Linked DNA regions of Homo sapiens: regions 1, 3, 4 and 5 are each linked to region 2. Evidence: fine-mapped QTL for protein levels in blood plasma. A gene starts in region 2. Each other region holds a variant in brackets. All regions are shown on one strand. Distances are from middle to middle.

The links. PIP is the chance, under the fine-mapping model, that this variant and not a neighbour inherited with it causes the effect. The UK Biobank Pharma Proteomics Project read protein levels with antibody pairs (Olink). The fine-mapping took linkage between variants from a reference panel, not from the people measured, so its PIPs are less certain.
Region 1: its variant is fine-mapped to the plasma level of the REG1A protein (UK Biobank, PIP above 0.99).
Region 3: its variant is fine-mapped to the plasma level of the REG1A protein (UK Biobank, PIP above 0.99).
Region 4: its variant is fine-mapped to the plasma level of the REG1A protein (UK Biobank, PIP above 0.99).
Region 5: its variant is fine-mapped to the plasma level of the REG1A protein (UK Biobank, PIP above 0.99).

The regions. Positions count from the first base shown.
Region 1 is chr2:79,100,354-79,105,458 of GRCh38, forward strand. No RefSeq gene overlaps it. Among named protein-coding and RNA genes, the nearest start is that of REG1B, 15 kb to the left of the region's middle. The variant T/G (reference allele first, on the strand shown) is at 2,690.
Region 2 is chr2:79,117,878-79,122,982 of GRCh38, forward strand. REG1A (regenerating family member 1 alpha) reads left to right here and starts at 2,611. Exons shown (of 6, transcript NM_002909.5): 1 at 2,611-2,637; 2 at 2,939-3,048; 3 at 3,685-3,803; 4 at 4,111-4,248; 5 at 4,964-5,075. The coding sequence starts at 2,985.
Region 3 is chr2:79,067,721-79,072,825 of GRCh38, forward strand. No RefSeq gene overlaps it. Among named protein-coding and RNA genes, the nearest start is that of REG1B, 18 kb to the right of the region's middle. The variant A/T (reference allele first, on the strand shown) is at 3,055.
Region 4 is chr2:79,159,535-79,164,639 of GRCh38, forward strand. REG3A (regenerating family member 3 alpha) reads right to left here and starts at 219. Exons shown (of 6, transcript NM_002580.3): 1 at 194-219. The variant C/T (reference allele first, on the strand shown) is at 2,814.
Region 5 is chr2:79,094,347-79,099,451 of GRCh38, forward strand. No RefSeq gene overlaps it. Among named protein-coding and RNA genes, the nearest start is that of REG1B, 8.9 kb to the left of the region's middle. The variant A/G (reference allele first, on the strand shown) is at 2,416.

The sequences.
Region 1 (5,105 bases), 18 kb before region 2:
AGGAAAATAGAGAACAGAGAGTTTATTTCCTCTTTTTGGCTTATATTTAGCATGCCTGTTTTAGGTATTCTCTGGGGTGTAAAATTTTTCAAACCTCCCTTTTGTCATGAGTTCTTCCCTCCTGCTTATGTTTAGCTATTTGCCTAGCAACCCCCCAACTAATGTTTCATTAGGAATTGTCCTAGTGGGTAATCTCTGTGGTGGCCTTGCACCTGTGTCAGTTCTCTCTTTGAGCCCTGAGGCTCCCTGACACATTTTTTGAAATCTAGCTCCTACAGTCAGCAATCCTGGAGAATTAACATGCTATGGACACCATCAAAACTTGTGCCCTGTGCCTTCTGGAGTGATGGCCAGCACCACATCTGGGCTTCGTTAAGCCATTTCTGAGATGGCTTAAAAGAGCTGCTTAGGAATGCAGGAATCAGAGATTTGAGGAAGCCCTGAGTAGTGAGTAACAAGGTCCCAAGGGCTCTCAAGAGTCCTCTTTTGATCTAATTCTGTTCTCCAGGCATTGGCATTCTGTCTGGGTTTGTGATGGGAGCTAATCTCCTTATCAAAATTTGGCCACACCCTAGGTTTTTCTTTTTTGAATATGCCTTTTCTTTATTTAAAACACAGCCAGACTAAGAATTTTCCAAATCTTTACTTTCTACTTCCTTTTCAATGTACATTTCATATTTAATTTTTTCCCCTTTTCTCAAGTTTTACTATTGACAGTTTAAAAAAGTCATGCAGCATCCTTAACAATTTGCTACTTAGATATTTCTTCCACCAGATATCCTAACTTGTGGTTCTTAAATTCTGCCTTTCGTAAAATGTTGGGACACAAAGACAATTCAGCCATGTTTGTTGCCTCTTGGTAAAAAGGATAACCCTCGGGTCATTGTGCAATACCATGTTCTACAATTCCATCTGGGATCTCATCAGAATTACCTCTACCATTCATATTGCTATTATTCACTTGAAAACCACTTAAGTAATCTCACTGCTGATTTAGGTTTAGCCTATAGCTCTCCTCTTCTTGAGCCCTCACCAGCATAGCCCTTAACACTCTGTTAATAGCAATCTAGGCTTTTTTCTAGCCTGATCCTCTAAACTCTTCTGCCCTCTGCCCATTACTCAGTTCCAAATCTGACACACATTTTTAGGTGTTTTTTATAGTAACAACCCCACTTCTGGTACAAATTTCTATCTTAGTCCATTTTCTACAACTAGAAGAAAACACTTGAGACTGGATAATTTATAATAAACAGAAATTTATTTTCTGACAGTTCCAGAGACTTAAAAGTTCATTATCAAGAAGCTGGAATCTTTCAAGGGCCTTCCTGCTGTTTCATGACATGGCAAAAGGCTGAAGGGCAAAGAAGCAAAAGGGAATGAAACTAGCCATTTTATAATGGTATTAACTTCACCTATGAGAACAGAGCCTTCATGGCTCAATCACTTCTTAAAGGTCCATGTAAAAATGATTACAATGTTCAATTAAATGTCGACATGAGTTTAGAGAAGATAAACTTGATAATTTTTCCTTGATTTTCTTACTATCTTCATTCTTCTGAAACCTGGTTAATATTCATCTCCTCAATTGGCATAATGACATTTGTTTAAAGGTTATATGGTTATCTGTCTTACACTTTTTGTCATTTCATAGCCAGAAATACGTTATCGGTTTAATTTAGATTTGTGAATTTACCTTGCCTTGGAGACATGTCGTTGATCCTCTGAGGAAAGGATCCTTTCACTTGAGAGAAAATCCAGTTTGGGTTTCCAAATTCCACTTCTATTCCTCAGCCTCATATGTTACAGCAATTTATATTCTGCTAGTTTTGTGCCTTCTGTATTTAAAAAGGAGAATGTTGGCCAGGCACGGTGGCTTATGCCTGTAATCCCAGCACTTTGGGAGGCAGAGGCGGGCAGATCACGAGGTCAGGAGATCGAGACCATCCTGGTTAACATGGTGAGACCCCGTCTCTACTAAAAATACAAAAAATTAGCCGGTTGTGGTGGTGGGCACCTGTAGTCCCATCTACTCGGGAGGCTGAGGCAGGAGAATGGCCTGAACCCAGGAGGCGGAGCTTGCAGTGAGCTGAGATAGCACCCCTACACTCCAGCCGGGGCGACAGAGTGAGACTCCGTCTCAAAAAAAAAATGTATGTAATAATAATAATAGTAATAAAATGTTCTTTATTGTGATACATTGACACATCATGTAAATTCTTGCTTATGTCATTAGTGAGGAAGAGGTGATAGATACCAGGTTGGCATTCTTCTAGTTTTAGTTCATTTTGTGTGCTATAACAGAATGAAATAACTGAGATTGGGTAATTTTTAATGAGCACAAATTTATTTTTCTAATTTTTTGAGACGGGGAAGTCCAAGATCAAGTTGTCAGATATTGATGAGATAATTTTTGCTACATTGTTGCATATACACAGAATAAAAAGAAAAATCTATCACAGTATTTGCCTGGAGAATTTATAACTTTTTAAATAAAACTAATAATATTAAACAAAGATGACAAACGTTGACATTATTTATTCTACTTGGCAGGTTCATAGGTGTTTGTTATGTTAATCCAACTTATTTCTGCATTTAGTAAAAATATTTATGCTATCTTACAAGCTTATAGCCAGGTTAAGATATCTTTTTTCTTATAAATAAGAAAGTCAATCATATTCTTCAGACTTCA[T/G]AAAAGATACAGTAGGTAGGAGTCCAGTATACTTGGTACCATAATAAGTGTATCTTGCAAAAAAAATGAACAAGTAATTAATAGTTTAAAATTAAAAAAATTCTTTGTGGCATAATTTTTTTAAATATGAGAGTTCTTATTTACTTCAAGAAGACTTAAAGCAAGCAAAAACATTCCAGATATAAAAGATCTAATACTTTAAAATACATAATGAAATACACTGTAACTGGCATGATATAAAACAGAGAGAGATTCAGTTCAATACTGTATCAACAATTGACACAGTATTCCCATAAAAATCTTTATTGCTACCAGTATCTGGAAACACATTGAGATGTTATTAACTTTATTGCTTGCACATGTGACTGGCCAAATTCCGCGTGCAAGCTAATAAAACTGATACCTTTACCTGGCAGCTACTTTGTTCCAAAGTGATGCCTTTTGCATATAAACTGTATTTCCTATCTGTTCAAGGTTTATCTCATTGTCCTCCAGAAAACAAGGCCCTTCCTGTGACATAGTTTTACAAGATTCCAAGAAGCTCATTTCAGGTCTTTCCCATCATATTCCCTCCAGCAGTCTTCTTGTATATGGAAAGCAGTCTCCTGGAAATCTAGTGTTAATATGTCCTTAAGTGGGGAAACTTTCTGATAAGCCTCCAATAACGCCAAGAAAATTCCAAGGCTATGGCTGATTCTAGGTGCTGTTTGCCATTTTCCAAGAGGTATTCTCTGCTTTCCACCTTTGGAATTGAGATTTTAGACATATGAGAGAGAGATAATCTCCCACTTGTTTAAATCCTTGGCAGGCATGTAAATAATAGCCTGTCTGCAAACTTTAGACTGGAAAAGAAAGGAGCTGAACAAATAACAAATGCAGCAAGGACATTCCATGGTCTGCTGTGTTCTGCAGGTGTAAGGAAACCTACTTATAAGTTAGCCTATTCTGCTTCACAAGAAACCTCTGATTTTTAAACATTAATTTTTGTCACATGCTGTCTATGCCAGGCACAATTCTAAATGCTTGCCTAATTAGAAACCATTTAATCCCCATGAAAACCTAATAATGTAGGTGCTGCTACGAACCATATTTGACACATAAAAAAAATGAAGGCAAGAGAAAGGCTAGGTAACTCCTGCAAGATTAAAACAGCTGCTAACACAGGAATAGAAAACCAAATATTGCATGATCTCACTTAAAAGTGTGAGCCAAACATCAAGTACATATGGACACAAAGAAAGGAACAACAGACACAGGGCCTACTTGAAGATAGAAGGTGGAAGGAAAGTAAGGATTGAAAATCTACCTATCAGATACTATGCATATTACCTGGGTGATGAAACAATCCATACATCAAACTCCTGCAACACACAATTTGCCTGTATAACAAACGTGCACATGTACCCCTGAACCGAAAATAAAATTTTAAAAAACCAAACAGCTACTATGTGTTGGCACTAGATTCAGACATGCAGTTTAGCTCCAGGGCCATTCCCTGAGTTCCCAAAATACTGATTTTCCTCTACTTATTTCCACATGCAACTCATCCAGCTATCTGGATTCTGAATGATTTCAACACATAACCACCCATTGATTATGGTCAAGGACAGAGGCTCCACAAGAAGAGCTTAAAAAGTGAATAAATGTAAGACATCACCCAATTCTTAACCTGCAATTTAATTTGTCTTTTACACACACACTAGCACCACAAACCCGTGTGTGTGTGTGTGTGTGTGTGTGCACGCGTGTGTGTGCTCCTGAAAGGAGGAATTGTTCTTTAGAATCCTCATGGCCTGGTCACCACATAAAAGTCCCACCTCTTAACATTGTTCCAATGGCAATTAAATTTCAACATGAACTTTGGAGAAGACAAACATTCAAACTGCAGCATTCTAGCTGCCTAAAAATCATGTATTTCTCAGGTACAAAATGTTTCATTTCATCCCAAAAGCCCCAAAAGTCTTAGCTCATTATAGTATCCTCTTAAAAGTCTAAGGTCCAGATTATCATCTAAATATAATCAAAATCAGATACGTGTGAAAGTCAAGTATGATTCATTCTGAGGCACATGTTTCTCCAGCTGTGAAATCAAGTAAGTTATGTACTTCCACAATATAGTGATGGGACAGGCACAGGATGGACAGCCTCATTCCAAAAGAGAGAAATGGAAAATAAAAATAAATAATAAGTCTGTAATAAGTCTGTAATAAGCCCAATTCCCACCAAAGCAAATAACATTAAATCTTGAGGTTTGAGAATAATCGTCTTTGGCTCCAAGTCAAACCTTCTCTACATATTGGGGTGAGGGTTGGGCCCCCATGATTTTGCTGGATGCATCCCAGGAAGTAGCTATCAGAGGTTAGAGTCTCTTTTATGCAGCCCTCTACAGGTGGCATCTCACACTGCTGGATCTACA
Region 2 (5,105 bases):
AATCTCATATTTTAAAAATATTTATTATAAAGTCATATGCATACATATGTTCATTGCAGCACTGTTCACTATAGCAAAGACATGGAATCAACCTAAATGCCCATCAATGATAAACTGGATAAAGAAAATGTGGTACATATACACCATGGAATACTATGCAGCCATACAAAAGAATGAGATAATGTCCTTTTGAGGGACATGAATGGAGCTGGAGGCCATTATCTTTAGCAAACTAACACAAGAACAGAAAACCAAATACTGCATGTTCTCACTTATAAGTGGGAGCTAAGTGATGAGAACAATTGAACAAATAGTGGGGAACAACACACACTGGGGCCTTTTGGAGGGTGGAACATGGGAGGAGGGAGAGGGTCAGCAAAAGTAACTAAGGGTACTAGGCTTAATACCTGGGTGATGAAATAATCTGCACAACAAACCCCCATTACACAAGTTTACCTCTGTAACAAACTTGCACTTGTACCACTTAACTTAAAATTAAAGTTAAAGGGTGGGTGTGTTAGCTCACGCCTGTAATCCCAGCATTTTGGGAGGCTGAGGCAGGCAGATCATGAGGTCAGGAGATCGAGACCATTCTGGCTAACACGGTGAAACCCCATCTCTGCTAAAAATAAAAAAAAATAAAAAAACTTAGCCGGGTGTGGTGGCGGATGCCTGTAGTCCCAGCTACTCTACTCGGGAGGCTGAGGCAGGAGAATGGCGTGAACCCCAAAGGCGGAGCTTGCAGTGAGCTGAGATTGAGCCACTGTACTCCAGTCTGGGTGACAGAGCCAGACTCCATCTCAAAAAAAAAAAAAAAGATTAAAGTTAAAAAAAGAAAAGAAAACATTATGCCATAAAGTATTTTTATCTTAGATTTTTTAAAAATTAATTGCTTGTTTAATTTTCACAAGATAAATATGTAATGATACCAAGTATACCCGACTCTTCCCTACTATATCCTTTGTTAACGGAAGAATATTTCTGAATCTCTTATTTATAGAAAAAAATAGGAATCATTCTCTGGTTGTAATCATTTTAAAAGGTATAACTACTTTTTGTAAAAGCAGAAAAAATTTGGATTAATTTAACAAATGCATATGAACCAGTGAGAATAAACAATGTTAACATTTGTCATCTTTGTTTAATATCGTTAGTTTTTGTTTTTATTTTTTGAGACAGTTCCCTGTTCTATCACCCAGGCTGGAGTGCAGTGGCACAACTCACTGCAACCTCTACTTCCCAAGCTCAAACAATCCCCCACCTTAGCCTCTTAAGTAGCTGAGACTACAGGCATGTGCCACCATATCTGGATATATATATATATATATATATATATATATATATATATATATATATATATATATATACTTTTTTTGTAGAGATGGGGTCTCGCTATGTTGCCCAGGCTGGTCTCGAATTCCTGGGCTCAAGTGATCCTCTCATCTCAGTCTCCCAAAGTGCTGGGATGACAGGCTTGAGCCACCACACCAGGCCCATCATCAGTTTTTATATAAAGAAAAAAAAACCTTAAAATTGTTAGGCAAATACTATGACAAATTGTAATATATATTCTTACATTTCAGATTTTTATTTTTTAAACTGTATAAGAATTGATTAATAAATAAAATTTAGTATTAATCTGTCTTTTAAAACCATATATAAAGTTTATCAAATAGCTTATAACTTCTTGCAACTGAATTTTTGTATTCAATGTTATGGCTTTGATACTAGTCCAAGTTGAAATATAGATATCTACTTTATTCGATTTAAATTCTGTTTAGTATTTTATTATATTTTGTTAATCCATTTGTCCCAATTCATATACTTATCTCTCTTTCTGTGAATATTCAGGTTAGTTTTTTCTTCCTAATTTTGCATTCTGATTGGCTTTTATTCCCTGAATTATAAATGACTATTCTATGATGATTCTGGTAAATACTCAATTTCACCACACAATCTTTGACTTCATACTAACAAACAGTTGACTTCAAATGGACAATTTCAATGAAGCCTGACTTCATATTTAGCTCCTTTAAGCTTCCTTAGGCATCAGCTCTCTACAATTCTCACATTGAGAATATGTGTATTTTGTTAGCTCAAACCTTGTTAGACATGTTAAATGTTTAGAAATATAAATTTAACCTACCCCTTGAGGTAGGTCTTGAGAGGTTTGTGAGCCTAAAAAGACATGGAGGAACCACTTATTGCCACAAGCACATTGTTCTAAATTATTTGGAATCAGTTAATTCTTCCCCATCTCCTACCCATGCCTGACACCAAAGAGGAGCCTCTAAATTTACAGGGAATACAAGGAAGTCTACTGTTCTCTGCTCCTCTCTGGGTTATTAGGGCACATGGGAGCCCTCAGTTGTTTTCTGCTGAGCAAGAGCAAAGTCCACCTTGGACTTAGACAGCTTGCCAAATTTTTTGCCAGAAGGGGACCTGAGTTGTGACCACTCCCAGTGTGTGCCGGGAAAAGGCTCGTACTGGTGCCAGAATCTCTTACTGTCAATGCTCCCAAAACTCACCGCTTGCCCCCACCCCTTTTGCTTAAATGACGTGGTTCTTATCTCAGATCCTGATATAAAGCTCCTACAGCTACCTGGCCTGAGAAGCCAACTCAGACTCAGCCAACAGGTAAGTGGGCATTACAGGAGAAGGGCGTCTCTAACATGCACTGTAGATCTAAAATCTTCGGGAAGATACAGCATGAGTTTCTGTCCAAGAGGTTTTAGCTGTAATGAAGCCTCAGTGGGATCCAAAGTTGTTTTTCAGTTACTGAGTCTGTATAATCCCCACTCTCAAGAGAAACATTTGAAGGTGTGGGTGTCTCAGAGGACCTTCCTGGTCTCAGAAATTCTGAGAGGAGGTTTTAAGGAAGGTAATAGGTGCTTTGCTCTCCATCTCTCAGAACCCCCTTCTCTGTGTTCTCCTATAGAGATTGTTGATTTGCCTCTTAAGCAAGAGATTCATTGCAGCTCAGCATGGCTCAGACCAGCTCATACTTCATGCTGATCTCCTGCCTGATGTTTCTGTCTCAGAGCCAAGGTAAGATCTCTTTTCCACCAACCAACTCTTTCTAGCCCTGAAGACTTCACTCTATCCCCAAGCATACGGGTCTACTTGAAAAAAAAAAAAAAAGCAGAGTCACTGTTAAGGGTTGTTTTGTGGTGTTTAGTGATCTTTATTGCTGATCTCTTCACATTTATATACATCCACACCTCATTAAGGAGTTGGAGCTAGAATTTAAAATGACCCCTTATAAGCAACTGCTGCAGTTGGCATGAGTTTATCTGATTAAATTTATACGTGATGGTGGATTTGGGGATGTCTGTGTGTAGACAGTCACTAATGGGGTGGAGAACTGAAGAGAGCCTTGTGTTCAGGGAAACCAAGTCAGGCTTGAGAAAGTAGAAGGCTGAGTCCTTCAAGGTAGAAGAGCCTGAGCTCCAGACATAAAAGGGAAACTGGAGACTTGTTTCTTTGGCCTATTCATTCTGTTTTTTTTCCCCTGATCAAAGAAACCAAAGACAGAAGATGTAGGATGCAGGAGCAATAGTGAGCAGTCATCCCATAATAGACTGGATTCTTCTGTTTCTATAAAGGAACCTCAGAAGCTCTTACCTCACCTTCAAGCCTTTTCCTTACCCTGAGAGCCTCCTTTAATTGTCTCTTCTTTTTCAGGCCAAGAGGCCCAGACAGAGTTGCCCCAGGCCCGGATCAGCTGCCCAGAAGGCACCAATGCCTATCGCTCCTACTGCTACTACTTTAATGAAGACCGTGAGACCTGGGTTGATGCAGATGTGAGTGAGGAGAGCAGTGTGGGAAGGGAGACTCATGAAGGGAGGGGAAGCTGCCACTCTCCAGTGTGTTCAGTGGCTGCAATGAGATGAGACTGAACCCCTTGCTATACTATCATCAGCCCCAAACTTTCCAATCTACTTTATCCCATTATTCAGCACATTCCCAGCACAAAGAACCTGGTGGTCAGTGACAGCATCATCACGGACATTACTCTGCTGTCCTTTTTCTGACCCGTCCTCTTGGAGGACTCAGTATATCCGTCACAACTTCCTCCTCCACTGAGTGCTCCATTTTCTTCTGCAACAGCTCTATTGCCAGAACATGAATTCGGGCAACCTGGTGTCTGTGCTCACCCAGGCCGAGGGTGCCTTTGTGGCCTCACTGATTAAGGAGAGTGGCACTGATGACTTCAATGTCTGGATTGGCCTCCATGACCCCAAAAAGGTAGGCTGCAGCCTTCTTTATCTCCTAATGATCAGGTTTGAGAAGTAAGAAGGAGGTTCAAGTTCTGGTCTCTTAAGTACCAGCTTTTATCGCTTTCCAGAAATCAGGCTGTTTACAGATCCTCTAATGTCCTGTGTAGCAAGGTGCACTGTAGATGATTGGAGATATAAGTGGAAGGCTGAATTTCCTAGGTGTTCTTGTCATTCATGAATAAACTTATTCTGTTTTCAGTCAACAAAGCATCTTTATGCACCAACTTCTTACCTATTTTGTTACTGTCAGAGTCACAAGAGAGACTAGATTGCCGACTATATAGGAAAGGAGACTTGTGGTAAAAATCTGCTGCTGTACTGCTGGCATTTGGGAACCTGGTAGTATACTAAATAATATAATATATCAACAACTAATGGTCAGCCAATGCTATGCTGGATATGAGGGTCCTGGGCCACAAAGACAAAAAATCAGGAACCACTTTTTAAGTGAGATACTTTGGGTCTCTGTCAAATTCATAACACTTATTTCTTGGTGGAATACAGTTAATGAGTTGGACAGTTCAGGAAAGAAGTTTAGAGCAATAGCAAAGGAAAGGAAACAATATTTAGCAAGGTTTATTCTTCCTTTGTGTCTTAGCATGTTTCTGAGTGTGCACACAGGCCCAGTGATTCCATGTATTTTTGAGTGACCACTGCCTCTGTTCTGGCCCTTCCCCATCTAGAACCGCCGCTGGCACTGGAGCAGTGGGTCCCTGGTCTCCTACAAGTCCTGGGGCATTGGAGCCCCAAGCAGTGTTAATCCTGGCTACTGTGTGAGCCTGACCTCAAGCACAGGTGAGAGGCAGAGAATCCATCCACCTGTTT
Region 3 (5,105 bases), 50 kb before region 2:
AAATATTTAGCTGAGGAAGTTAATCATGCAGACATATGTAGAAGTATGTTCCAGGAGGAAGGGACAGCCATGCAAAGACTTAATTGAGAGAATGCCTGGTGATTTCTGCAACACAGTCAGGGGTGGAAGAGTTAAAAGAGCAGAAATAGGACCGAATCATGCTGCATTTGCAGGCTTTCACTGAGTGAAGTGAGGAGCCAGTATATGATTTTGAGCAGAGGTCTGAGTACATTATCTCACTCATGTTTTAAAAGGCTCCTGCTGGCTAGTTAGTAAACAGGACACACAGACAATGAGGTAGAAGCAGGGGACCAGTTAGGAATTACTTGCAGTAAATCAAGCAAGAAGAAGATGGGGCTTGAACACAGCCCTGGAGAAGTTGGGAAGTGGCCCAGGAGAGATCTGTTTTGAAGGAAGCATCAACAGGAATTCTTGAATATGGAGTGGAACAGAGCATAAGAGAGGAATGAGCAATGGCTTCAAGGTTTTGGCTGAAGCTACCGAAAGAATGGATCAGTGAGATGGGAGAGGCTGATATTGGAGCAATGTTTTTTATGGGGTAGGAGAAAGGCGGAAATCAGGTGTTGAGTTTTGAACTTGAGTTTGATGTATCTATTAAAACATTCACATTAAGACTCCCAGAAGGATGATTTGGAGGTTAGGGTGCAGTGAGAGAATAAAGAAGAAAAGGGAAGGGAAGAAGAGGTTCAGCAATTAAGAATTGCAATGTCTGACATCGAGGCTAAAAAAAAGAGCAAGGAGTAGCCCCAAAGGAGAACAAAAGGGTGGCCAATGAGGTAAAAATGATATCAAGAGATTGCGGTGTCCTAGAAACCAAAAGGGCATCTAGAACACATTAGGAGGCCAACAAAAAATACTTAATGTAAAAGCATTAAGCTCTCTGAGTCTTAGATTCCTCACCTGTAAAGGGAGGGTATACATACTTACTTCAGGATTACATGAGATGAAGCGTATGTAGGATGAAAAGTGGTCCCCAAGCTATCATGTTCCAATTCCTACAACCTGTAATTGTGACCGTATTTGGAGAAAAAGAAAGTCTTTGCAGATGTGATTAAGGATTTGAGGACAGTGAGATAATCCTGGATTATCCTGGTGGGTTCTAAATGCAATCACAGCTGCTCTTATAAGGGAGAGATTAGGCTCATACACACAGAGGAGAAGGCAATGTGAAGGTAAAGAATAAAGAGATTTGAAGATGGTGGCTGTGAAGATTGGGGTGACGCAGCAACAAGCTGAAGAAGGCCAGAAACCACCAGCTGCTGGAAGATGCCCCACTAGAGCATCTAGAGGAAATGTGACCCTGCCAACCTCTGAACTTTGTCCCCACAATACTAATATCAGTCTTCTCTCTTCCAGAACTGTGGAAGGATACATTTCTGTTGTTTTATGCCACCAAGTTTGTTACAGCTGCAAGAGCACACTAATACAATATGTAACAAGCTGAACAGAATCTTGAAAGACCTTCAGTGTGCACCACCATTATCCATTCCTCCACAAAGATGGTTTCACACATGGGAAGAGACTACTAAGGAAGGATCACTGATATCAATCTGAAAGGTGGCAAAACATCTTTGAAAAGTGTCTGTGAGAGAATGGCTCTCATGCTGGGGGCCGGATTTGTAGAAGGATCTTTAGACAGCCCTCAACATCAATAGCATTCTACAGTTTAAACCACACTCAGCTGGGGTTGTTTATACAAAATGAAACTGGCAGAATCTTCATAAGGTGAGTCATCCTTTTTATAGTCTTGCCTATGCTTGCTGTTCTTACCTTTATTCTGTTTTATACCATGGGGCACCATATTGTTTTCAGAATGATTAGTATATTTCACTTACTTCTGTAATTTTTGGCACTAGATTCTCTTCTTTTTAACTCCTCTTTGTACAATACACATATTTGATCCATGCATGCTTAACCTTGTAAACCTTGTTTCTTCTCATCTAGAGGCCATCAAACTCCAAAGAGTCAGGCAACTGGAGCCTCAGATGATGGCTCCCATTTGCCAGGGACCCTTAGATAGACCTCTGGGAAGAGTCTGACTGCCATTCTCCCTCCAAAAAATGCCCCCTGTCAGAAGAAATTAGCTAAGACTGGTCATCATCTGTATTCTTACATCAGTTAGATGTGTGTCTTCAAAGATGGGAAATGATACGGACAGGAAGCAGGGAAATTCTGGGCAGAAGAGGGCAGATCCCTGGTGAGGGCCCCACCCTCAAGCCTGGAACCATGGCCCAAAGTGAGAACTTGAATTCCTGTTTTCCTGCTCGAATGTTGCATTTTCCAAAACCACCCATGGCCCACCCCCCACATCCTGTGCCCATAAAAACTCCAGGCTCAGGTGGCAGAGAGAGGGGAAGCAGCTGGATATCAGAGACTAGAGTTGGATGTCAGAGAGAAGCAGCTTGACTTCAGAGGGGCAGCTTGATGGCATAGCTTCAAAGAGGGGTCTGGCTGGGGACAGCCAGTCTTCAGGGGACAATTACCTTCCCACTCTGTCCCCCTTTCAGCTCCCTCTCTGGCTGAGATCCACTTTCGTCAGCAATAAAATCCCCTGTATTTACCATCTTCAATTCATTCATGTGACCTGATTTTTCCTGGGTTGCAGATAAGAGCTCAGAGCCACAAGTGTGAATGCAAAAGTCTGTCACAATGACCCTCCATTGACATAAGCCATCCAGGGATGGCAAAGCTAAAAGAACACTGACCATAACACTCCCTCTGGGGCTTCAGGGGTCACAGGCACCCCCCTAGATGCTGCTCTGGGGCTGGTACGGAGTTCATTCCTGCTGGTGCCCAGTAGCACTTGCCCTGGCTCCTGCACCTGCTCAACTGCATGCTCCCCCAACTGCAAGGGGTTGAGAGCTGTGGGCTAAGTGAGGCACCCCTGTTGTGAGGCTTGTGAAGGGGTCAGGGAAATATCCTGCTTCACTAGCACAATATGGAAAAGAGAGAGATTTAAAACAAATAACAACTGACAAAGTTCTCTCATAAAAAATATTTATTGCCCCAATAGCTGTATACCCATTAAGATAG[A/T]TACCTTTATTGCTTACATATGTAGCAGGCCAAATTTCACATGTATGGTAATAAAATTAAGGGCATTTATTGGCAGTCACTTTGGTTGCAAAGTCATGCCTTTTTCAGGGAAGTCATATTTCCTGTCCCTTAAAAATGTATCTCCTTGTCTTCAGCAGCCACAAGGTCCTATTCTCTGACCTAGTTTTGCAAAGTTCTAGGAAGCTCATTTCAGGTCTTTCCCATCATATTTTCTCTGAGAGTATTCTGATAGATGAAAGGGTGAATATGTCCTACACACCTAGTGTTAATGCCTCCCCAAGTGGGGCAATTCCTTTGTAAGCCTCCAATAACATTTAGGAAGTTTCAAATATATAGATGATATTTTATGTTACTGGCCATCTTCCAGAAGCTATTTGCTGCTTTCTAACCTTATAATCTAGATTTTAAACTTGCTGTGGAGAGATACTCACCCTCTTGTTTACATTCTTGGCAGGCAATGTGAATAACAGCCTTTCTGCTAACTTCAGACTGGAAAGAAAAGGAGCTGAGAAATTACCAGATGCACCAAGGATCTTCCACGGCCTGATGTGTTCTGTAGATGTAAGAAAACCTCCTTATAACTTAGCCTCTTCTGCTTCACAGGAAAGCTCTAGTTTATTTTAAACAAACTTACATCGTATGGTCTCTATGCCAGGCACTATTCTAAATGCTTGACAAACAGGAACCCACTTAATTCCCATGAAATCCTAAAAACAGAGGTGCCATTTGCCACCATATTTAACAGATGAAGAAACTGAGGGTCAGAGAAGGCCTAAGTAATTTACCTAGGATCAAGCGGCTACTATGTATTGAAGTGAAAATCAAACACAAGCACAAGTTTTGCTCTAGGGTCATTTAGTTATCACAACTGTCTTTCTGAGATCTCTCTAGTTTTCTTCACATTCAATCCATTCAGCTCTCTGAAGCCTTACTGGATTCGGTAAAAACATACCGATGAATCATAGCCATAGCTGCGAGCCCCACAGGAAGATCTTAAAAAGCAAATAAATATGAGGCACTACGCACCCAATCCTTAGCACACAATTAAATTTGACTTTTATATTTACCGGTACCACAATCGTTTTTGTGTGTGTTTGGAGGCATTGAGAATTTTTTTTTTTAAATCTTAGCACAGATATGACCAACCTCCAACAAAATTCACAAACAAATGGGATCAGATAACACTTGAAGTTTTAATGGAAACTTGAAAGGCAGGAAGCAAGTCAGGACTCTTCCTCTCTTTTTGATATCTCAGGACTTGTCCATGAAAATAAAGGACATAAAAATGTTCAGAAAGGACTAAACTCTTAGAATAAGCCATCCAAGATCTCTCCCTCTAAGTCTTGCACCCTTGAGCAGTCAAAAACACATAGTGTATCGAGACCCCATTATTTGCTTTTTAATTTGAGTATGGAGTCTAAGAAAAGTTGTGAATTCCTCAAATCCAAAAAGAGAAGCTATTTTCCTGTGAATCCCTCTTTATAAAGGAAGTCTTAAATTGCAATTCTAAGCAGAGGGCAATGAGAGAAGTTCACAGGCCCTATAGAGGGCACTGATGCAAGGAAAGCCCAGCATCAGGAGAAGCCTCTTCCAGGCACATCCTGGGAGTGGTCACACAAGAGGTCCCTTCCACAAACAACTTGGCAAACTGTGAGAGTCAAGGGCAGGCTTTGCCCTTCCCCAGCAGCAATGAGATGCCCAGTTCCCATGGCCCTGAGCAGCCCAGGAAGAAGCAGAGATCTTCCAGGAATGGTGATAATGGGTATGAGGGAAGGACCCTGGGAGGAGGGGCACTGAGTGTGTGAGCCTGGAGCAGGACCATCTGTGAGACAAGAGAGGCAGCAGGATAAGATGTGGAGCACCCTGCTTGGGGCAGTGGAGAAATGGAGAGACACAAGTTCAGGGCGTCTTAACATTATTCATCATGGAGGCCTCCTCTCCTGACCAGGCATGCACTGAAAGGAGCCTGTGGAAATAGAAACTCCAATGGAAGAAGCTAAAGGTTCTGGGGACTGCACCTTACACCTCAC
Region 4 (5,105 bases), 42 kb after region 2:
CACATCCATCATCTTCTACAGTTCTGAATGAGTTGTGAATCTGTGTACTCTCCCATCCCCGAGCCCTCCCAGGACACCCTTGCTGAGTCTCAGAGTTCCTGTGCTCCCTGAGGAAGGGACCCTCCCATGTATTCTCCTGTGTCATGTGCAGTAGCTCCTCCCTGGGTCTCATCTTCTCTCAGCTCCCACTTACCTCTCTGGTGGGATATGGTATGGTTTGTCTGGTCAGGAAAGAGTGGGATTTTATAAGAGGATCTGGGGGAGGGACATTGGAGTGAAGAGTGACAATGAGTAGGCAGGACAGGGGTCATGGGGTGGGGTTGGCATGGACTCTTCCTGGCAAAGACTGGGGATTTTCCCAGATGTTGCCTCTTTCCTGTTGGCAGGCCAACACTTTCCCTAGGAAGAGGTGAAGTTTGCTTTTTCCTCTGCATCCTCCTTGTCAAAGGCCTGTGGCACCAAATGTGATATGAAATCTTCTAATGTGGACATCTGAAAGAGGAGTTCCTCTGGTGGGTTTCTTAAGAACCCACTTCTGGAGGCAAACCTATGTATTTCTTATTACCTTGCCTAGTAAGATTAAATAAATGTTAGGTGTTAAGTGAAGATTTACGGGAATTATAAGTATCATGGACAGTTGAGGACATAGATGGTACTGAAGCTAAGAGTAGGAGTGAGGGTTCAGGGCCATTATGCAAGCATGATAGCTAATTTTGATGAAACTTCAGAATTGTCTGACAAGTCAATACATGAGCCACAATCTTACAGAAAATCAGGTGAATGGACTTGTCTTTCCAGTCTTCAGCAAGAAAGAGCTTCCCCAGTGGAGAATGACAATGGCAATGTGATAGAATAAGAGGTAATGAAGGAAAACAAGACATAAGAAGGACTACAGTCAAATAATGAGGATCAAAGAAGAATGAATAATAGTTAAAGAAGGGAAGAGCAGCCATTGTGTAAAATCATAGGTCAGTTGGCCAGGTGCTGTGGCTCAGGTCTATAATCCCAGCACTTTGAGAGGCTGAGGTGGGAGGATCACCTGAAGCAAGGAGTTCAAGAGCAGCCTGGGCAACACATTAAGACCCTATCTCTACAATTTATATTTTAATTTAAGCCAGTTGCGGTGGTGTGTGCTTGTGGTCCTAGCTACTCAGCAGGCTGAGGTAGGAGGACCTTCAGTTGAACCCAGGAGTTCAAGGCTGCAGTAAGTTATGATCATCCCACTGCACTCCAGCTTAGGCAACAGAGTGAGAGCCTATCTCTAAATTTTTGTTTTGTGATGTTGTAAACATAATTCTGAATTGCATGTAAGTCTCTATTACATCAAAATGCTCACTACTTGTAGGTTGCTCATGAGCTTCCTTGCTGGACTGCCATTTGGCTGTACATTAAAAGCCCTTTTCATTGCATTCTTACTGGGCAAATGGTCAGCTTCATATGGGTATACTGGGAGAAGTTCTTTTAGTCATGTTTATTTTTGAGTTAGCAGTTTGGTGCCTCTGACAAGCATACTACATTGCCCATACACTGGTTCAGGTTCAGTTTGGCCAGTCCAGGAAAAAGTTAGGCTGGGAATTTCTACAGACCCTGACTCTCATGCTATTGTTGTAATATGCCAACTTGTATGCAGATGTTTATAGTAGGGGTCTGTGACGAGGTCATGAGATGTAGCTCATCCTTAATTCACGTCCTCAAAATTCAGTACCCAAAATTCAATGCAATTCCTCAAATAATATGAGAAGAAATATAGCCAGCAGATTATTTTGTTAAAAAGGATTTTTTTCCACAAAATTTATACAACAATATGTAAACACATGGAGGTACGGGGTAGAAGGTAACCAGAGGGTAGAATAGTTACCAGAGGCTGAGACGGGTGAGGGGAGATGAAAAGAGTTTAGTTCATCGTACAAACATACAGCTAGATAGGAGGAATATGTTCTAGCTTTTGATAGCACATAGGGTGACTATAGTTAACAACAATATGTTGTATATTTCAAGATACCTAGGAGAGAAGATTTGAAATGCTGACAGTTTATTATTAAAACTCACTTTTGTTCTTAATTGAAATAGTGTGACCTTTGTAATAAGCCTTAAGGTTATAAAATCCCTAAGTGCAATGTGAAATTTTCTTTGCAATGACACTCACTAAACTCACTAAAGTTGAGTTGTTTTTGTTTTATTTTTCATTGTTTCTTCATAACAATGCTTATTAACCAAGCACTGAGAAGTTTGTTTAAATATTATATTTCTTGAGCTGGTTTTGAGTTATATAAAAATCTACTTCTTAGGGATGACACAGGAATTCTTATTCTTGATGTAACCAAGGCTGAGTTTTAAGGAGCTTCCTTTGCCAAAAGATGTCCAATTTGTACTTTTATCCCTATTATCTTCTGAATCAGATATTTGCAGATAAGACTTAGTAGTCATTCTTAGAATTATAAAAGTGAAAACTGATCTCTTTGCAGGAGCCTAATATATTTGTTTCAAGGATGGTAAAATGTAGAGGTTTCCTGGAAGATGGCTCAGCAGGGTCCATGTCAAAAATAGCCTTGAACTGTATCTCACTGGAGATTTATCACTAAAGTGCACCCCTTTGAGATATATTAACCAGATGTCCAGAATGCCACTTTGGTCCTTTCATCTTATCCTAACACTGTCAGAAGAATTGGGAAAGGGATAAGATTAGGTGCTGAGCAACTATAAAACAGGAAAAAGGGACAAAACTTCAAAGCCCCTGAGGCCAATGAGGGAAGTTATTAACATCAAAGAACTGGAAAGCTGATAACATAGCTACTGAAATTTGGTCAATTATA[C/T]GTAAGCCATGAACAGTAACTATCATATGACCTGTGCAGTTATTGGAGGCAATAATTTTTATCAGAAAACTGTGTTAATATTTATTTGGTTTCAAATTTTCACATTGATCTTGGAAGAGTTCCCTGTTCATATCATGTTTGCTCTTCTAACGTTATCTATTTGGGTATTTTAAAAAGGCTATTGCTTTTTATTGATTTTTCTTTTAGAATAAGCTAGTTATAATACAAAATGTTCATTTGGGAAAAAATTAAGATAATGTTTTCAATTAATTACCATAAATCATACTCAAACAGCTTGTGGGTGATAATTTTGCAGATCTGAACTGTTCACAATGTATCAGAGTTCACATTTCTTGTGGTAGCAAATAAAAATAAAAATAAGAAATAATTCCATAGTCATGTTGCTTTTCTTTTTGTAATAAATTATCTTTATCATACAGAAAACATTTAACAAACAAGTATAGGTTGACCATCTAGAATCTACAGCGATAATATCTTGCCATCTTTTTTAGCTTTATTTTTTAGAGAAATGAAGCAAAAAGAAGTAATACAATCAAATTAATATTAATAAAATGATAAATAATACATTAATATTAATGATTAATAAAATGATAAATAATAAATGATATAATAAATAATATCATTAATAAAATGATAAATATAATAAAATTATAAATAATAATAATTAATATTATTTTAAAAAATAATATTAATAAAATGATAAATAAATAGTAGTCCATTTATGTTATTCCTCAGTCCCACTTATTTCCATGCTTCTCCATTACCAATTTTATAATTATTTTTCATATATATATATATATTTTGCAGTTGCAAGGTTTAATAGAGTGTAAACAGAGCTCCCATACAAAGGGAGGGGACCCAAAGAGGGTAGCCATTGCTGGCTCAAATGCCTGGGTTTATATCCTGATCATTGTCCCCCACGCTGTGCTCTCAGGTGATAGATGATTGGCTATTTCTTTACCTCCTGTTTTTGCCTAATTAGCATTTTAGTGAGCTCTCTTTACTACTTGATTGGTCAGGTGTGAACTAAGTTGCAAGCCCCGTGTTTAAAGGTGGGTGCAGTCACCTTCCCAGCTAGGCTTAGGGATTCTTAGTCAGCCTAGGAAATCCAGCTAGTCCTGCTCTCAGTCCCCCCTCTCAACAGGAAAACCCAAGTGCTGTTGGGGAGGTTGGCCAATGATTGCTCTAACTGCTTCCTGCTGAACTGGGGTGTAGTAGGGGTTGTGCAGTTGAGATTTCCTCGGGAGAGTTGCCTTCAATGTCATTAACATTGGAGCATGAGGCTAGCAGGCCAGTCCAGGGGTCTGCAGTAGATCTTAGTCATGGACTGCATCTGGGGCTCCATTTGAAGAACCATTTGTAGTTTTACAGCTTCGATTCTGGAAGAGACAAACTTAACAAGGAGGTTAAAGGTACAGGGATTGAAAGGTATGGCCTGCAGTGCAGGGGTTATTTCTTTGGCACACTTCACAGGCCCTGACTATCTGCTTGATAGTTTTGAAAAGGCCTGGTCCAGTAAATAATAATTTGGCCATCTGATGGGTGCTATCAATGTCTAAGTGAAAGTTTTGGTGAAGGGTTTTAAGTAATTTCCATTGGTTAGCTGCAGGCAAAAGTATTTTTCCTTCTTTGGTGGCTAGCCATCCTCAGGGGAGGAAAGTATGTCCTCATGAGGTTCCCCATTCTATTCATCCTGCTGAGTACTGGGGCTTGGTTTCCTGGAGGGGGTTACCCCACACTAGGGGTCCCTCTATAAGCATTTCTGATGGAGGGTCCTGTCTTGCAGCTCTTTTGGCTTCAATATCTGCTTGGTGGTTCCCTTCTATTTCCCTTTCCTTTCTTCTCTGATGACCCTAGCAGTGTAAGACTGCCACCTCTTTGGGTTTCTGTACAGCCAATAATAATCTCCTAATGGCTTCCTGATGGTTGATAGGTTTTCCCTCAGAAGTTAGGAATTCCCTTTCTCTCCATATTGCTGCATGGGCATGGAGGACTAGGTAAGCATACTTAGAGTCTATATGTATATTTACCCTTTTTCCTTCTCCTAATTCTAGTGCTCGAGTGAGGGCTATTAGTTATGCCGGCTGAGCACTAGTTCCTGGAGTGAGGGGATTATTTTCAAGTATTCCATTATCCCTGACCACTTTTCAAGGTCCTTTTTCTACAAAGGAACTTCCATCAGTATACAAGTTAAGGTCGGAATCAGTCAAGGGAACCTCTAAAAGGTCCCCTCGAGCGGGGTAGGTTTGAGCAATTACTTGTTGACAGTTA
Region 5 (5,105 bases), 24 kb before region 2:
CAGAAACCGGCCTTGCACAGGTTGTAGGGCTACTTGTTTGGCTACCTGATCTGCTAAAGCATTTCCCACCGATATAGGATTGTCTGGGGTTTGGTGGCCCCTGCAATGAATGATGGCAACTTTCTGTGCGAGCCGGGCAGCTTGAAGGAGCTTGCTGATGGGGGAGTCATTTATGACAGCGATATTTTTGGCAGTTAGGAAACCCCGTTCTTTCCAGATGGACAAGTGTGAGTATACTATGTGGAAAGCATAATGAGAATTTGAATATATGTTGATCTGTTGTCTGGTTGCTAGAGTGAGAGCTCGAGTGAGGGCGATGAGTTCAGCTTTTTGGGAGGTGATGCCTAGGAGGAGTGGATTGGCTTCAATAGTGTGTGTGGGGGTGACACTATAGCATAGCCAGCATGCCGGCGTCCTTGATGTAGGAAGGAGCTGCCATCTACAAACCAAGTAAAGGAGGCATCTGGAAGATATTGGTATGTTAGATTTGGAAAAGGTATAAGAAAGGTTTGAATAGTGTTCAAACAGAAGTGTGTAGGGTCTTGGGTGGTTGTAGCTTCAGGTAAGAGCGTGGCCGGGTTTAGACGGGAGCTGGTTAGCATGGTGATTTGGGGGCTTTCTATGAATAGAGCATACAGTTGGAGGAGCTGTGGGGCAGAGATGAGACTTAGTACACTGTGGTGAGCTAGCATGTCTTTGATGTTATGGGTTGAATAAACTGTTAGGTTGGCATGGAGAGATAGTTTTAGGTTTTTAAGGGTGAGGGCAGCAGCTGCCATCAATGCTCGGAGGCAGGCAGGCCATCTGAGAACTGTGGCTTCAAGCTGTTTAGAGAGGTAGGCAACAACCTGGAGGGTGGGTCCCTTAGACTGGGTTAGAACACCCAGTGTAACTTCACACTGTTTGTCGGTATAGAGGGAGAAAGGTTTGGTGAGGTCTGGGAGAGTGAGGACGGGGGCTGAGATGAGAGCCTTCTGGAGTAGATGGAAAGGTTGAGTAATAGGCTGTGCAGGTTTTAAAGGCTCATGGAGAGGGCCTTTAGCAGCTTGGTATAACAGTTTGGCAAGTACAGCCAAGGAGGGAACCCAGAGTCTAAAATATCCTGCTTGTCCCTAGAAAAGAGAGAATTTCTTGCTTAGTTTGCAGAGGTGGGAAGGACAGGAGGAGGGAAATGCGGTCGGTTGTGAGCCCTTGGGTACACAGGGTAAGAGCTAGGCCTAGATAGATGACTGAGGGGGTGCATATTTGTGCTTTTTTAGGGGAGACTTAATGCCCCCGTTCTGCCAGGTTTAAAAGAGAGAGATAGTATGGGCGTTGCAGTCTCTTTGAGAGGTGCTACGCAGGAGCAGATCATTAACACATCGAAGGAGAGTGGACAATTTTAGGGATAAGGTACAAAGGTCGCAAGCAAGGGCCTGTCTAAGAAGGTGGGGGCTGTCTCTGAAACCTCGAGGTAGTACGCACCAGGTGAGCAGAGGTGAAATGTGGGTGTCGGGGTTTTCCCACATAAAGGCAAAGAGGTTTTGGGAATTAGCGTGCAAAGGAATTGTGAAGAAAAGCATCCTTTAGGTTTAGAACAGAAAAATGGGTGGTATTGGAGGGAATTGTGGAAAGTGTATGGATTAGGAACTACTGAACATACTGGAAGTACAGCTTGGTTAATGAGCCTGAGGTCCTGGACTAAGCGATAAGTTCCAGCTAGCTTTTTGACAGGTAGAATTGGTGTGTTAAAAGGGGAGTTTGTTGGGCGGAGTAGGTGACTGGCAAGAAGGCAAGAAATGATAGGCTTTAGGCTCATGAGAGCTGCTTGGGGGATGGGATACTCCTTCTGTGATAGGAACTGGGTGGGCTCTTTAAGAGTAATGTGGACAGGGGTGTGGTGTTCTGCAACTGAGGGTGAGCAAGTATCCTAAACAGCAGGATTAACTACGGATGGGGGATAAGGAAAGGTTGTGTGTTTTAGGGTGGGAGGTTGAAGGAGTAGAAGAAAACTAGAAGTACTGGAGGGGTCTGGGTGGATGTGTTGGGTACTATGGGGAACGTGGAAGTGGAGAGTAGTGTGGAGTTTTGAAAGGACGTTTCGGCTGGGCACGGTGGCTCACACCAGTAATCCCAGCACTTTGGGAGGCCGAGGCGGGAGGATCACGAGGTCAGGAGATCGAGACCATCCTGGCTAACATGGTGAAACCCTGTCTCTACTAAAATTACAAAAAATTAGCTGGGCATGGTGGTGGGCGCCTGTAGTCCCAGCTACTCGGGAGGCTGAGGCAGGAGAATGGCATGAACCTGGGAGGCAGAGCTTGCAGTGAGCGGAGATCGCACCACTGCACTCCAGCCTGGGTGACAGAGTGAGACTCCGTCTTAAAAAAAAAAAAAAAAAAGCAAGAAAAAGAAAGGATATGTCTGCCTGGGAGC[A/G]GAGTTGGGCATGAAGGCAAGACTAACAAAGAGTGAGTGAAGGAAAAAGTGTGCAGGGAGTAGAAAAGTGGCAGGTGGCTCAGGGTTTGGAGATTTGTCCATCAATTCCCACAACAGAGATTTGGGAGGACTGGGTGGGTCCTGAAAAATTAGGTAAAGCAGAGTAGGTTGCCCCAATATTAATTTAAAAAAACATACTGGCCTACCTGCCACCATCAGGGTTACCCTTGGCTCTGATGAAGCAATGGTAGTTGCTGGGGCATCCGTTCCAGGGCACCGTCAGTCTTCAGCGGCAAGACCAATGAGATCTGAGTAGGAGGTTTTGGCCGGCTCAGGAAGGGATGGGGGTGGTCCTTGCAGGGGCCACTCACAGTCCAACTTCCAGTGGAGTCCTCTGCAGAGGAGGCATGGTCTGGTGGGCCTACCTGGATTTGGGCATTTTCTGGACCAGTGGCCTTTATTGCTGCACTTGAAACATGTGCCAGGTGGAGGTGGATTGCTTGGAGGCTTCCGTGTGGAGCTGCGGCCCTGGGGGCCTGCAGGGCCCCTGATGGCAGAGGCAAGCATTTGAGACTCTGCCTGTTTTTGCCTTTTACTTTCCTCATCACAACTGTTAAAGACTTTGAAGGCTAAATTAATAAGGTCTTGTCGTGGGGTTTGAGGGCCATCGTCAAGCTTCTGAAGCTTGTGCCTAATATCACGGGTGGATTGGGAAATGATCTGAAGGTTTAAAATAGTGGTTTCTTCTGGGCTGGCTGGGTTTATGTTGGTATATTTTCTCATGGCTTCAGTTAAACAAGAGAGAAAAAGGGCTGGGTTTTTGTCAGGACCTTGGGTGATTTCTGAAAGTTTTTCATAGTTTACCACTTTATGGGCACCCCTTTTGAGTCCTGCAAGGAGACACATAATTATGTGGTCTTGATGGCGCCATCCAGAGGCCCCATCTTAATAATCCCAGTGGGGGTCCTGGCTGGGGACTGCCTCTGTGCCAGTAGACAGGGCAGGAGCTTGGTGATGAATTGTATTAGCATGTGCCTGAGCTAGGGTCCAGATACGGTCCGGTCCTGGTCTTCTGGGGTGAGGGTGGAAGAGAGGATAAAGTAGAGGTCATGCCAGGTTAGTTTATAAGACTTGGTAAGGTACTGAAACTCTCTAATATAAAAGGTAGTGTCTTCTGGAAATGAACCGAGTCTTTTGTTAATTTGAGAGACATTAGTGAGGGAAAAGGGAACATGAACTCTAACAATACCTTCAGTTCCTGCCACTTCCCAAAGGGGGCATTCTAGCGCAGGCGCCGAAGTAAGGGTAGGGTATGGGCCAAAGATGGTGCCTGAACAAATATGGGTGGGAGAGAAGAAAGAAGCCAGAAGTGGTTCCTGCTCAGGGTTTGAAGGGGAAGGGGGGTTGAGTTGACAGGCAGTGGACGATAGATAGGGGCATAATGTGGTGGGATGGTTTTACAGGCTTCAGGAGAGCGGAGTGAAGAAGGAGAATTAGTACAGACAGTGCTAGAGTTGTCTTGAGGAGAGGATGTTGTAGGAAAAGAAGTGGGTACTTTTGGAGGTGATGCCAGCTGGGAAGATGGTGGCTGAGAAGACAACAAGGAGGTTTGGAGGGTTAAAGAAGACAGTTGAGAGGAAGAGGTACTGGCTGGGAGGGGTGAACAGCAGTCAGCTGGATAGAATGAGGAAAAAGAGAGAGGGTCGGGGGAGAAAGGTGATCAGGGCGGCAAGAATGGAGGGGAAGGATTTGAACAGGTAAGCAAGGATTGCAGAGGTCGGGTAGTGATCTGAGTGCACAAAGGCCTGGACATAAGGAATTTTTCCCCATTTTTCCAGTCGTCGGCAATAATTGCTCAAGTCAGTTAAAACTGTAAAGTCAAATGTTCTATTTGCGGGCCATTTGGATCCGTTATTTAATTTGTACTGTGGCCAGGCTGTATTGCAAAAAGAAAGACAACGCGCTTAGGGCGGATATCTTGCCTGAGGCCTAAGGTTTGCAGGTTTTTTATGAGGCAGCCTAGAGGGCTGTTTTTTGGAATGGAGGATGGGGAGTTTTCCATAAAGGAGGGTAGGCTGGGGAGAACAGGGAAAAAGGAGACCGTCCTGGACAGCCAGAGGGAGATGATAAAAGGAGCAATTGTCACCGCTGCCTTTTTTGTTCCCGAAACAGGATCAAATGGCTAAGAGGCATCCACTTAAGACCAGATGATCAGCGAGTGCCTGACACGTGCTGGAGCCTTCTTGGACCAATGTTGGATTTTTGGACCAGAGAAACAAAAACAGGCTGTGCAGATTTTTCCCTGTTAACGGGGCTCCCAAGGAAACTCAGCAGTAGGCAAGATCAGCGACTGATGTGCATGCATAGAGAAGTGACTGGAGACCAAGGAGCTTCCTTTGTCCAGCTGCTGTGGCCTGCTTTCTGGGGTGGAGGGGTAGGTCCATGGAGGATGCAGACCTGAGCCCCTCCTGGGTTTCAGCACCAGATATAAGGTTTTTATATCACTTCAAACCCCGAGAGCGCACCAACAGCTAACAGGAGGCAGTGTGGAGCAACATGCTGTTTTAATGAGCACCTGGGTGCAGGATGGCTGAGGCCTAAAATGGCGTCAGCCCCAAGTGAGGAAGGGGCAAAGGTTTTATAGCCTCCTGTAAACAGGAAGTGTCCTAGTCTGACGTAACTGCTACGTT